Homo sapiens: one gene and its partners. The protein of the gene in region 1 purifies or fractionates together with the protein of each later gene. This does not show direct contact. Each region holds a gene or a part of one and is shown in the gene's direction. Other genes may lie near its edges. The genes, in order: PPM1K, BCKDHA and BCKDHB.

Evidence for each region.
Region 2: the proteins of PPM1K (region 1) and BCKDHA purify together in Homo sapiens (affinity purification with mass spectrometry; 6 studies listed by BioGRID and IntAct, with this or other methods). This does not show direct contact.
Region 3: the proteins of PPM1K (region 1) and BCKDHB purify together in Homo sapiens (affinity purification with mass spectrometry; 5 studies listed by BioGRID and IntAct, with this or other methods). This does not show direct contact.

Annotation. Positions count from the first base shown.
Region 1 is NC_000004.12:88,271,045-88,274,698, reverse strand, and holds part of PPM1K (protein phosphatase Mn(2+)-dependent 1K), read left to right. Parts: intron 1-244; coding exon of another isoform or gene 245-273; intron 274-3,411; coding exon of another isoform or gene 3,412-3,604; intron 3,605-3,654. UniProt on the Homo sapiens protein: Serine/threonine-protein phosphatase component of macronutrients metabolism.
Region 2 is NC_000019.10:41,404,195-41,407,848, forward strand, and holds part of BCKDHA (2-oxoisovalerate dehydrogenase subunit alpha, mitochondrial isoform 1 precursor), read left to right. Parts: intron 1-3,654. UniProt on the Homo sapiens protein: Together with BCKDHB forms the heterotetrameric E1 subunit of the mitochondrial branched-chain alpha-ketoacid dehydrogenase (BCKD) complex.
Region 3 is NC_000006.12:80,169,022-80,172,675, forward strand, and holds part of BCKDHB (2-oxoisovalerate dehydrogenase subunit beta, mitochondrial isoform 1 precursor), read left to right. Parts: coding exon 1-9; coding exon of another isoform or gene 10-36; exon of another isoform or gene 37-1,195; intron 1,196-2,260; coding exon 2,261-2,369; intron 2,370-3,654. UniProt on the Homo sapiens protein: Together with BCKDHA forms the heterotetrameric E1 subunit of the mitochondrial branched-chain alpha-ketoacid dehydrogenase (BCKD) complex.

The DNA of each region.
Region 1 (3,654 bases):
AGTTTAAAACTTTAGTTTTTAGCAAGAACTGAAGCAGTATCAGTATTATAAGAGTGGATAATATTCTTTTCGGCCTATGTATATAGATAGGACCAGTGCCAGTGAAACAAAATTTTGTAGTAAGTGCAGTTTACCCTCTCCAGTTTCTTTCATCTTTTCTCTTTTAGTATTAACCCCTTTCCCCTCTTCTTGAACCCTTCCTGTGAGGTGAAGGACTGTGGCTTATTCATTTTTGAATCTCCAGTGTGCAGCACCCTGCATAGAACCTGGCAGGTACTCAATAATTATTTGGATTGAACTGAGATCTCCACGCTGACTCTTTCTCACTGAAGTTACTGTAATTTTTTCTTTGATTATCATATAGCTGATTTAATCAAATTATTATAAAATGTTTGCATTTTAATGAGCTGTCACTCCTGGGTGGATTTGAATTTTAGTTAGCAGACACCTGAAAAAGGCTTAAACCATAGAAGTGAATTACTAATGGTGAGATTTTAGGTATAAAAGAGAGGCGTGCCGCTCAGTCCTACTGAAGCAGCATTGCTCGTCTGGCGTAATACTTGAGTTTCATTGTCTCATACCAAGGAAATCAAGGACGAGGACACACAAGGAGTGAGGTTAGGAGTGGAGACTTAATAGGTGAAAGAAAGAGAAAAGCTCTCTCCTGCAAAAAGAGGGGTCCCAAACAGCTTTCTAGTCCATGGTGAAGTGCAGGAGGCTTTATGGATGAACTTGAGGAGGCAGTGTCTGATTTACATAGGGCATGAAAGATTGGTTGGACCAGATGTGCCATTTGCATAGCACACGAAAAACTGATTAGGCCTAGGTGTGCAATTTGCAGAGCATTCAAGAATCTGGCCACCCCCACCCTAATCTTTTATTATGCAGATGGGTTCTCTACCTGGCCAGCGCCATGTTGCCCATTTCTTTACACATGGTGACAAAGAAAAGGGAAGATGGAACATATTGAACATGCTTGGCCCCAGGTAGCCCTTTTCTTTTTCTTTTTTTTTTTTTTTGAGACAGTTTTGCTCTAGTCTCCCAGGCTAGAGTGCAATGGTGCAATTTCAGCTCACTGCAACCTCCACCTCCCAGGTTCAAGTGATTCCCCTGCCTCAGCCTCCCAAGTACCTGGGATTATAGGCGCCTGCCACCATGCCTACCTAATTTTTGTATTTTTAGTAGAGGCGGGGTTTTGCCATGTTGGTCAGGCTGGTCTCTAACTCCCGACCTTGGGTGATCTGTCCGCCTTGGCCTCCCAAAGTGCTGGGATTACAGGCGTGAGCCATTGTGCCCAGCCCAGGTAGTACTTTTCTATTGGCACAGCTGCTGGCATTCACCTGTGCAAGCTTCCAGCTTGCTTATTTATGTTTGCAGCTCAATTTTTCAGGTTGCTCTTTGTTAGAAAAGAAATGGTTTGGAGGCTGCTTTTTGTTAAAAGGGAAGCCTTGCCACGGACTCCTTTACCCTCACTATGTGCCTACATAATTTATTTCTAGCTCCTGTATCAATACCATATTAACTTTCTTAAGTGAAATTAAAACATTCTTATCTCCTCTCAACTTCAGTTCCAAAGCTGTTACAGCTACATAAAGAACTTCAAATTATCTTACTAACATTTAAAATATTTACTGTTGAATGGCATTGCTGTTGCCTGAGCAAGTTCACACTCAAGTTACACTTAGTGAGAGCTCTTTTCTGCCCGGCATGTGTGAGTTCAGCGTGGGCAAGAGACTTTTATGTGCATTCAGTCCTTTCAGAAATGAGACGATGCCAACCACAGACGCAGCATGTCCTGGATGACTGATCTGTAAAATATAATAAAAGCTTATTGTTTGAGTAGAAAATAAAATAAAATAATTTACTGTTGTAGCTGGGGATATTTTGAAAAGAATAAAATCAAAATGCCACTTATCAAGAAATGGCAAGAACAAGATTCCCTTGCCCTTAAGAAATTGTCAGCTATTTTTATTGCTTTTTTGTTAATGCATTTTCAACCTGTCCTTAGTTATCAGTAGCAAATTTCATCACCATCTTTTAATTTTTTTATTCAATTTATACCAGTAATGTCTACTTTTACAATTAATAAAAGCAGCCAGTAAATCCGGATGATATCCCACCAGTCCGTTGTTTATAAAGAGATAGCCACTTAGAACAAACTAGATGGTAGAAAATTAGGTTATAATTCTATATTTCCTATAAGCTCTTCAGAGTGTTTCCAGATTGCTTAAACTTTGAAAGCAACAAAGCTCCGAAAGGGACAAATGGAACAAAAAGAGAAGACTTGCTCAGACATTCAGAGTGGGGGACATTGATGGCATTATGAGTCTCACCAGAAACTTTTATGTTCTTCATATCCTGTGACCTCTTTATGGAAGAATTAAACTACAAAAGAACCAGGGCTGTAAACACAGCATTTTTGAATCCCCTATGCCGGGACAGCCAAAAGAAAAAAAAAGAGAGCATTGATGAGATGTTCTTACCGTGCTGCTACTGCTTCAGCTCATTACTTTGATTTTGGTGTTCATGAGTCATGAGTCTAGAACACCCATTTTTAATAAATATTGAAACTGTATTGGTTTATACATAGTATTATTTACACAATTGAGTAATTACTAGGGGTCATTATACTTTGAAAAGTATAGCTTTTGCTCTTTATGTTGGCATTCACAATCTTGATCATTTTTCTTTTGATGTGTCGGCCTGCAACACTGGGGGAAAGAGAGAGCTGCAGAAATACCCATTTTGTGAATTATACAAAATTATAAACATGCGTCTCGCTAGCCTTTATTTAAGCAATGAATTTAAATTAATCATTCTACTCAAAAATGCCTTATAGGTACTAAGTCTCTGCATTAAGCACCATTAACAAATGCATTACTCTATGTATCTTGTATAGCGGGTGCTTTGATTCCTTCTTGATATATATTTAAGTCCCAGTAATTTGGTGGTATACTGTAGTTTACATCCTGCTTGTCAGATACAAATTCTTCCATGCTGTAACTGTAGATTTACCTTTCTATTCTTGAGACAATTCTGATATTGCTACCAAACAAATTTACAGTGCATTTTTTGTAACTCAGTAAAGGTAGTGATTTACTGTGTTTAAGACCAATTATTTCAGTGAATGTGTATATGCGTGAGTGTTTTTGTGAGTGTGTTAAATGTAGGTCTGTGTCACCATTTATGTGTCTTGGTACAGATACTTTTTTATATAGTTTTTTCAACCTTAGAAACCACAAAATTAAGAAAGAAGTGTTACCCTGTGATGAAAAAATAGGCTCAACTACAAAATACCATCAACTGGAACAAACTGAGTTTTGGAATAATTGATTTGGCATCTCCTGGAATATTATATAATTTGCTAGTTAAATTTTCACCAAAATAAAAAACCCTTCCCTTATTTTGCAGCTCTTTCTCTGCTCTCCCCTGTGTTGCAGGTTTGTAATGTTTGAGCACAATTCCTGGGTGAAATTCGTATTTGCCTCTGTGCGTGTTATTTGTGGCAGAGAACTGTGCCTGGTCAGCAGCTCTAGACCTGGAGCCCGTGGACACTATATGCGGGGCTTCAGTGGAAAGAGAGATCTGCTTAATTTTGTCCCAGGTGAAGGAGTCCAGCGGTTCCTATCCTGGACTACGGGAAGGTTCCCACAT
Region 2 (3,654 bases), on another chromosome or scaffold:
GTCTTGAACTCCTGGCTTCGAGTGAACTGCCTGCCCTGGCCTCCCAAAGTATTGAGATTATAAGCATAAGCCACTGTGCCCGGCCAAAATTTTATTTATTTATTTATTTTTTTGAGATGTAGTCTTGCTCTGTCACCCAGGCTGGAGTGCAGTGGCACAATCTCGGCTCACTGCAAGCTCTGCCTCCCAGGTTGACGCCATTCTCCTGCCTCAGCCTCCCGAGTAGCTGGGACTACAGGCGCCCGCCACCACGCCCGGCTAATTTTTTGTATTTTTAGTAGAGATAGGGTTTCACCTTATTAGCCAGGATGGTCTCGATCTCCCGACCTCATGATCCGCCCGCCTCGGTCTCCCAAAGTGCTGGGATTACAGGCGTGAGCCACCACGCCCAGCCTAATTTTATTTATTAATTTATTTGAGATGGAGTCTCACTCTGTCACCCAGGCTGGAGTGCAGTGGTGCGATCTTGGCTCACTGCAACCTCCACCTCCCAGGTTCAAGCGATTCTCCTGCCTCAGCCTCCTGAGTAGCTGGGACTATAGGTGCGTGCCACCACGCCTGGCTAATTTTTGTATTTTTAGTAGAGATGGGGTTTCACCATCGTGATCAGCCTGACAGGCTGGTCATGAACTCCTGACCTTAAGTGATTCACCTGCCTCAGCCTCCCAAATCTGCTGGGATTACAGGCATGAGCCACCGCACCCAGCCATATTATTTCTGTATTTTCATTTGGCTTACCTGTCAACTTGACACTTTTTTGTTTTTTTAGGCTAGTCAGGTGAAGCAATGTGAGTAAGATCACCTGTCTTGATTATAACTTGTGTGTTCAGTGTTTGTCATTCATCCCTCCCTGTCTCTAGCCTTCAGTTCAGGGCATGATTTGGAGCAAATGTTCAGTATCTGTTTAACAAGAACAATCATGAGAAATACTTACTCACTACTTGTGTTTATGAAACATTATGTGCCAGGCACTGGGCTGAGCAATCCACACAGGTCAACTCGGTTAATCCTCATGACAACCCCTGAGATAAGTACTTATACCACCCTCGGTGTACACAGGAGGAAACTGAGGCTCAGGGAGTTTTTCTTTAAAAATTTTTTCTTTTTTTTTTCCTTGAGACAGGTCTTACTTTGTCACCCAGGCTGGAGTGCAGTGGTGTGATCTTGGCTCACTGCAGCCTCTTGGGCTCCAGCGATCCTCCCACCTCAGCCCCTCAAGTAGTTGGGGAGTACAGGTGTGCACCACCATGCCCAGCTAATTTTTTGTAGGGATGGGGTCTTGCCATGTTATCCAGGCTGGTCTTGAACTCCTGGGCTCAAGCGATCCTCCCTCCTTGGCCTCCCAAAGTGCTGGTATTACAAGTGTGAACCACCACACCTGGCCTTAAATTTTATTTATATATTTATTTTTGTAGAGACGAGGTCTCACTATGTTTCCCAGGCTGGCCTCGAACTCCTGGACTCAAGTGATCCTCTTGCCTCAGCCTCCAGAGTAGCTAGAATTACAGGCGTCTGCCACTGCACTTGGCTCAGGGAGTTTAAGTCACATAATCAGGCAGCGGTCTGCTCAGTTAGAGTCCATGCGCTTAGCCATGGTGCCTTCAAGTGACTCCACCAGGGTCACCCCAGTACTTCCTGGGCAGACCAGACCATCCAGAGCGGGCAGGTTGTGCTTTCCTGCATGGTGGGAGAGGACGTGGCATGAAGCTTTGTGTAAATCTGTGCAGCCTCTGCCATTGTAAATCACTGGCCACCGGGACAGACTCCCCCACCCCCTTCCAAAAACTAGAGGAACAGATGGGTGGAGTCGCATCCTTCCTCTGCAGGCATTTGGCCACCCACTCCCATTATGGAGCATTTCCTCAGGACCAGGCACAGCGTGGAGCCCTTTGCATAGCTCACTGAATTGGGGCAGCAACCCTGGGGCTGGGGACTACCATTATCTCCACCAGCCCAGCAAAGAGGGGAGGAGGGTACAGCCGAGACCCAGCTGCAGTATGTGGAGCACACTGGGGTGCCGTGAAGATAGCTGTCCAGCCTCTAGAGGCTGACAGTCCTGCCCTGACACAGTGGTTTGTTCTCAGACTCTGGCCTCCCCTCTTAGTGCCCGTCTGAAGACTTCAGCCTTCGGTCCTCTTCCATCAGCATGCCGTCTCCCCTGTGCCTCAGTCTCCCTCTCTGGAGTATCTGCTGGGGCCACAGTTTGGTTTTATTGTTCTTTGAGACAGGGTATCACTTTGTTGCCCAGGCTGGAGTGCAATGGTGCAGTCATGGCTCACTGCAGCCTTGACCTCCTGGGCTCAAGCCATCCTCTCACCTCAGCCTCCCGCAACTCCAGTATCTGGACTACATGTAAATGCCACCATTCCCAGCTAATTTTTTTTTTTTTTTTTAGATAGAGTCTCACTCTTGTCACCCAGGCTGGAGTGCAATGGTGCCATCTTGGCTCACTGCAACATCCGCCTCCCAGGTTCAAGCCATTCTCCTGCCTCAGCCTCCCAAGTAGCTGGGATTACAGGCACCTACCATCATGCACGGCTGTTTTTTGTATTTTTAGTAGAGACAGGGTTTCACTATGTTGGCCAGGCTGGTCTTGAACTCCTGACCTCAGGTGATCTGCCTGCCTCGGACTCCCAAAGTGCTGGGATTACAGGCGTGAGCCACCACGCCCAGCCTTCCTGGCTAATTTAAAAATTTTTCAGAGACGAGGGTTTTGCCTAGGCTGGACTCACTATGTTGCCTAGGCTGATCTCGAACCACTGGCCTTAAGTGATCCTCCCACCTCAGCCTCCCAAAGTACTGGGATTACAGGCATGAGCCGCTGCACATCGCCACAGTTTGATTTTAGTATCCACTTTAAGGTGCAGTTAGTTCTTCCCAGCTCCTCTTTTCCCTATCTCATACAGTGTAGTCACTTCCCTTTCTCCCACTTCTCACCTTCCTAGATTTTGTTTTTCTCTCTCTTACCAAGTTTTGAGTATGTAATACGTCCCAGATCGGTGCTGAACCCCTGGTGTGAGTTAACTTAGCAACTTTTCACGTGGTGTTCTGCAGCCTTCTTACAGATAAGGAAATTCAGAGAGGTGAAGTGTTTTTGCAGAGAGCCACACAATGAGCTAAGAAATTAGAACCCAGGGCAGTTGAACTCCAGAGCCAGGGAACTTAACAGCCCATTCATGCATTCACTCAGGAATTCCCTCTTGAGTGCCTGCTGTGAAGGCAACCTGGACGCTGTCTCTGCCTTCCTGGGATTGTGGTGTGTGTGGGAGACAGACACGAAACAAAGCAATCTTCTAGGTCAGTGTCTGGCTATGCTGGGTACTCAGAAGGGGGAAGCACTGTGCTGCAAGAGGCCGGCTGTTTCCTCCTCACAAGGGGAGGCCTGCAGTGACATTGCCAGGCCTGAATCTGCCCTGCCATTGGGAGTGTAATTTCCTCACGACTACAAATGCAAATAAATACACACACTGAACATGCTACCCCGCTAGAACTGTGGACAGCTTGTTCACTGCAGTTAAAGGAAGACGGAGGGACACATTTGAGCACGCATGTGTGAGATCCAGCTTGTGGCAAACCCTGCCATTCTTTAACATCTGTGGGAAGTGAAGCCACCATTACTGACCTCGGAGGAATCCCGGGAGTAGTGGGAAGAAA
Region 3 (3,654 bases), on another chromosome or scaffold:
GGAATCAAGGTATGTTCATTTATGTACTTTATTTGATTTCTATTTGATGTTTCCATTTTGATTCATTCTATTTAATATCTATGCTTATCTAGAGGAAAGAAAACAAACAGGATTCTTGGAATTTATGTGAACTTAACTGTATTTAAGAAGGGGAGGTTAGCAGTTCTTTTAAGTATGCTATCCAATGCCCAGTTTTACAGCAAGTTCTTTTTGAAGGAGGACTGGTTTTATAAACTCTGGCATTGATTAATTTTATAGACTTCAAAGAATAAGACCAAGAACATAGTTGGTTTACCTCCCCTCTCTTTCAAAGCTTTATATTTCTTTCTAACTTAAGTCTTTCTCACTTAACTGATGATGGGGTGATTTTAATAAATCTTTTGTTTAGTCTGTATTTACCTCAAAGTCACAGGGATAACACTTTTGCTTTTAATGTATTTCTTACTTGTTAAAAAGACTAAGAGAAGACTGTTACCTAGATTTTTTTTTTCTGTTTAAAGTTAGGTAATACTTGCTCAACCAATTAATTTTGAAGCATCTCCTTTTTATAACCTGTCTTTCACAAAAGCTTAGGTCTTTTGATGGTAAAAATATTTTGAGTTTTTTATGTCTTAATTTTTTGTATTATCTTTTCTGTTTCTGTTTACTGAATAAGCTTTTCAGGGGATCATTGTAGAAACCCATAGATGTGTGAATCCAGAGATGTATATTTGTTTTTTGACCACATGAATTGATTGTGAGCATGTGTCTATGTTTTATTCTTTTTTTCTTATTTGTTTTTTCTACCAGATCAAAGTTATAAGCTTATCTTAGTTGAGTAGATGTTGCCTGATTTTTGAATGTGAGCTAGAAGTTGTAGACTGGGAAAGAAGCCATGTGCGAGGCAAGTTATTTTTGTGCTTGAGCTAAACATTAATTCACATTTAATATTTATAACATTATATTGTTTTTAAGAACAGATCTTTTCTGTCTGTCCCCTGCCTTCTCTTTTCCTCCTTCATTTTCTTTCTTCCTCTTCCTTTTTCCTTTTTTTTTCAGCTGAAATGAAAATATACTTAAAGTACAAAAGGCTAATATGAAGAAAGCAGATGAAGGGAACTTAAAAAGTAGGAACATAAGATAAAGACATTGTGTGATATGGTTATTAATGTGTTCAGAGGTCCAGAACAGAAAATAAAATTTTTTATACAGAAAATAGTGACATTTTTGCTGCTCTTTTATTTTTAAAATAAAACCCTTCAATAAAAATGGCATAAAAATGGCTTTGAAAGCCAAATATAGTTTGCCTCAGGGAATCTTAAGTCTTTGTGGTAAGTTCAGGTTTATTTTAATAACTCTTCCTATATAATATTTGTCTTTAAACAATTATAATCATTTAAAATTAGACAAAGTTTGTGATTTAAGTCAACATTAGATAGAAGTTAAGAGCTTGAGCTTTGGTATCAGTGGGAATTGGGTGAGACTCTTTGATCAAGCAAGTCGTGTGACCTTAGGCAAGCTACTTGTTCTCTCTAAACCTCAGTGTCTATTTCTAAAATGAGGAACATTATAATAGCTACCTAGTGGGGTTGCTATGAACAGATGAATTAATTCACAGAGTGCTTGGCCAAGTTTACACGTGTACTTCCTACTGTCATTATCATCTTCCTTGTCATCACCCTCATTCTCGAGAAGGTCCTGGAGCCCTTTCCTGTGAGTGGAAGTGTGGACTATCCACACTTTTGTTTTTGCTTTGCTATATAACTGGACACTATGGTGCCTGGACTGTAAAACTCAGTGGACTAATTTTTCACTTATGAAATGAAGACCATATTTTTTTTCATGGGAAAAGAAGATTTTGACATGTTAAAACTGGAGAAGAGAGTTGCATGTACTTTGAAAGTAGAAACAGATTATTAGTAGAAGAGATTTCTTCATAGATAAACACAGGTAGATATTAACAATATTACAGTTTTTTGCTTTGATGAATGATCTTTGCATATTCTTTTTATTTTTTTTATATAGGCAAGTTTAGCTTCTTAAGAGTAGTATCTTAGTTAACAGAACATGGTAGACATCTGATAAATATCTGTTGAATAAGAGGCATTTTTATTTTTATATAATATGTAAACTTAATAAGTGATAATTAGGCTTAAAATAAATAGCCAATATCTATTTTTAATTAGTAACAATTGATTATTTAAATATCAGCCCTTCTTAGCAGCGAGTTTACTGGGATATATTTTTACTAAAATTGTCTTAAAAAAATCTGTTTTTGCAGGTGGTTATACCCAGAAGCCCTTTCCAGGCCAAAGGACTTCTTTTGTCATGCATAGAGGATAAAAATCCTTGTATATTTTTTGAACCTAAAATACTTTACAGGGCAGCAGGTAAAGATTTTCTTTATTTTATATTTGTGAATATCTTTATATACTTTGTTTTTTATAGCTCTAAAAGTTATATCTTTTTTTTCTATATGGTTGATTTATATTTTCCTTGTAGAAAGAATCTTGATTTTTTTGGTATTTAGTTTGTCCTCAGGTGTAAATTTTATGTTTGGGAAAAATTCATCTAGCCATTTTATATTTTGATTGTGGAAACAAAGAGGAAATCTGAAGTGGTAGCAACAATAAAGGGACTATGTTTAACCACATAGTAGGTGCTTAGTAAATATGGATTGAACAGAAAAGTAAATGAGCTCATTTTACTAAATAGTATATGTTTCCTTTTAACTAAAGTGACCATAAAGGTCTTCCTTCATTTAAATCAGGATACCTTTGACTGTGAAGGAGGTGCTGTTAACAATTATGCTGTGCTGTCAGGTCTATGCTGGGATGACTGTGTAAAGCAAACTAAGGTGTTTGGTCATCCTCTTTTTAGCTCAAAATCCTGATTTTATAAACATACATCTGTGACTGCTAATTTCTTCACTGTAATGGAAATTTTAAATAGCAAATGATTTTTTTCTGTCTAAAGCATTTTAATCACTCCTGGAAGCTTCTTCCTCACTCTTCACAATGGATCCATTCTCCCTATGCCAAAAACAGCCACTTTCTGATTGCCATCAGATTAGGTGTACATGTGTTTGGGCTTCATATAAATCCATGCACACTGCATATGTTCTTTTGTGTTTGCTTTCTTTTACTCAACCTAATGCTTTTGAGATTCATTCATGTTTTTGCTTGTATCAGTAGTTTATTCACTTTTCTTTGCTGAGTAGTAGTCCATTGTATGAATATCTGTTGTTCATTTCTATTACAATAATATTACAATTTTGTACAATATTAGAACATTTCTACTTAGTAAGGAACATGGTCATTATATTGGATGAATATTCACTGTTCATTTCTATTACAATAATATCTTACAACTGTACAATATTAGAACATTACTACTAAATAATGAACATTGTCATTACATCATACGAATATTCATTGTTCATTGATAGTATTATTACTACTAAGTAATAATAATTTTTCTTGTTATTCTTATTTTTCTAAGTATTCTAGTTACTAAGGAAAGTAGCTTGGCCCTCTTCATCAAGGTAATTTTTTGTGAATAGTATTAGCATATTGCAACTATGTTTCTGGAGCCAGCCTGCCAATAAATGCTTCTTGGCTGTGGGGAAAAGAACACCCAAAAATCTGAGGCGTGTACAGTATTGTTTAATAAGTA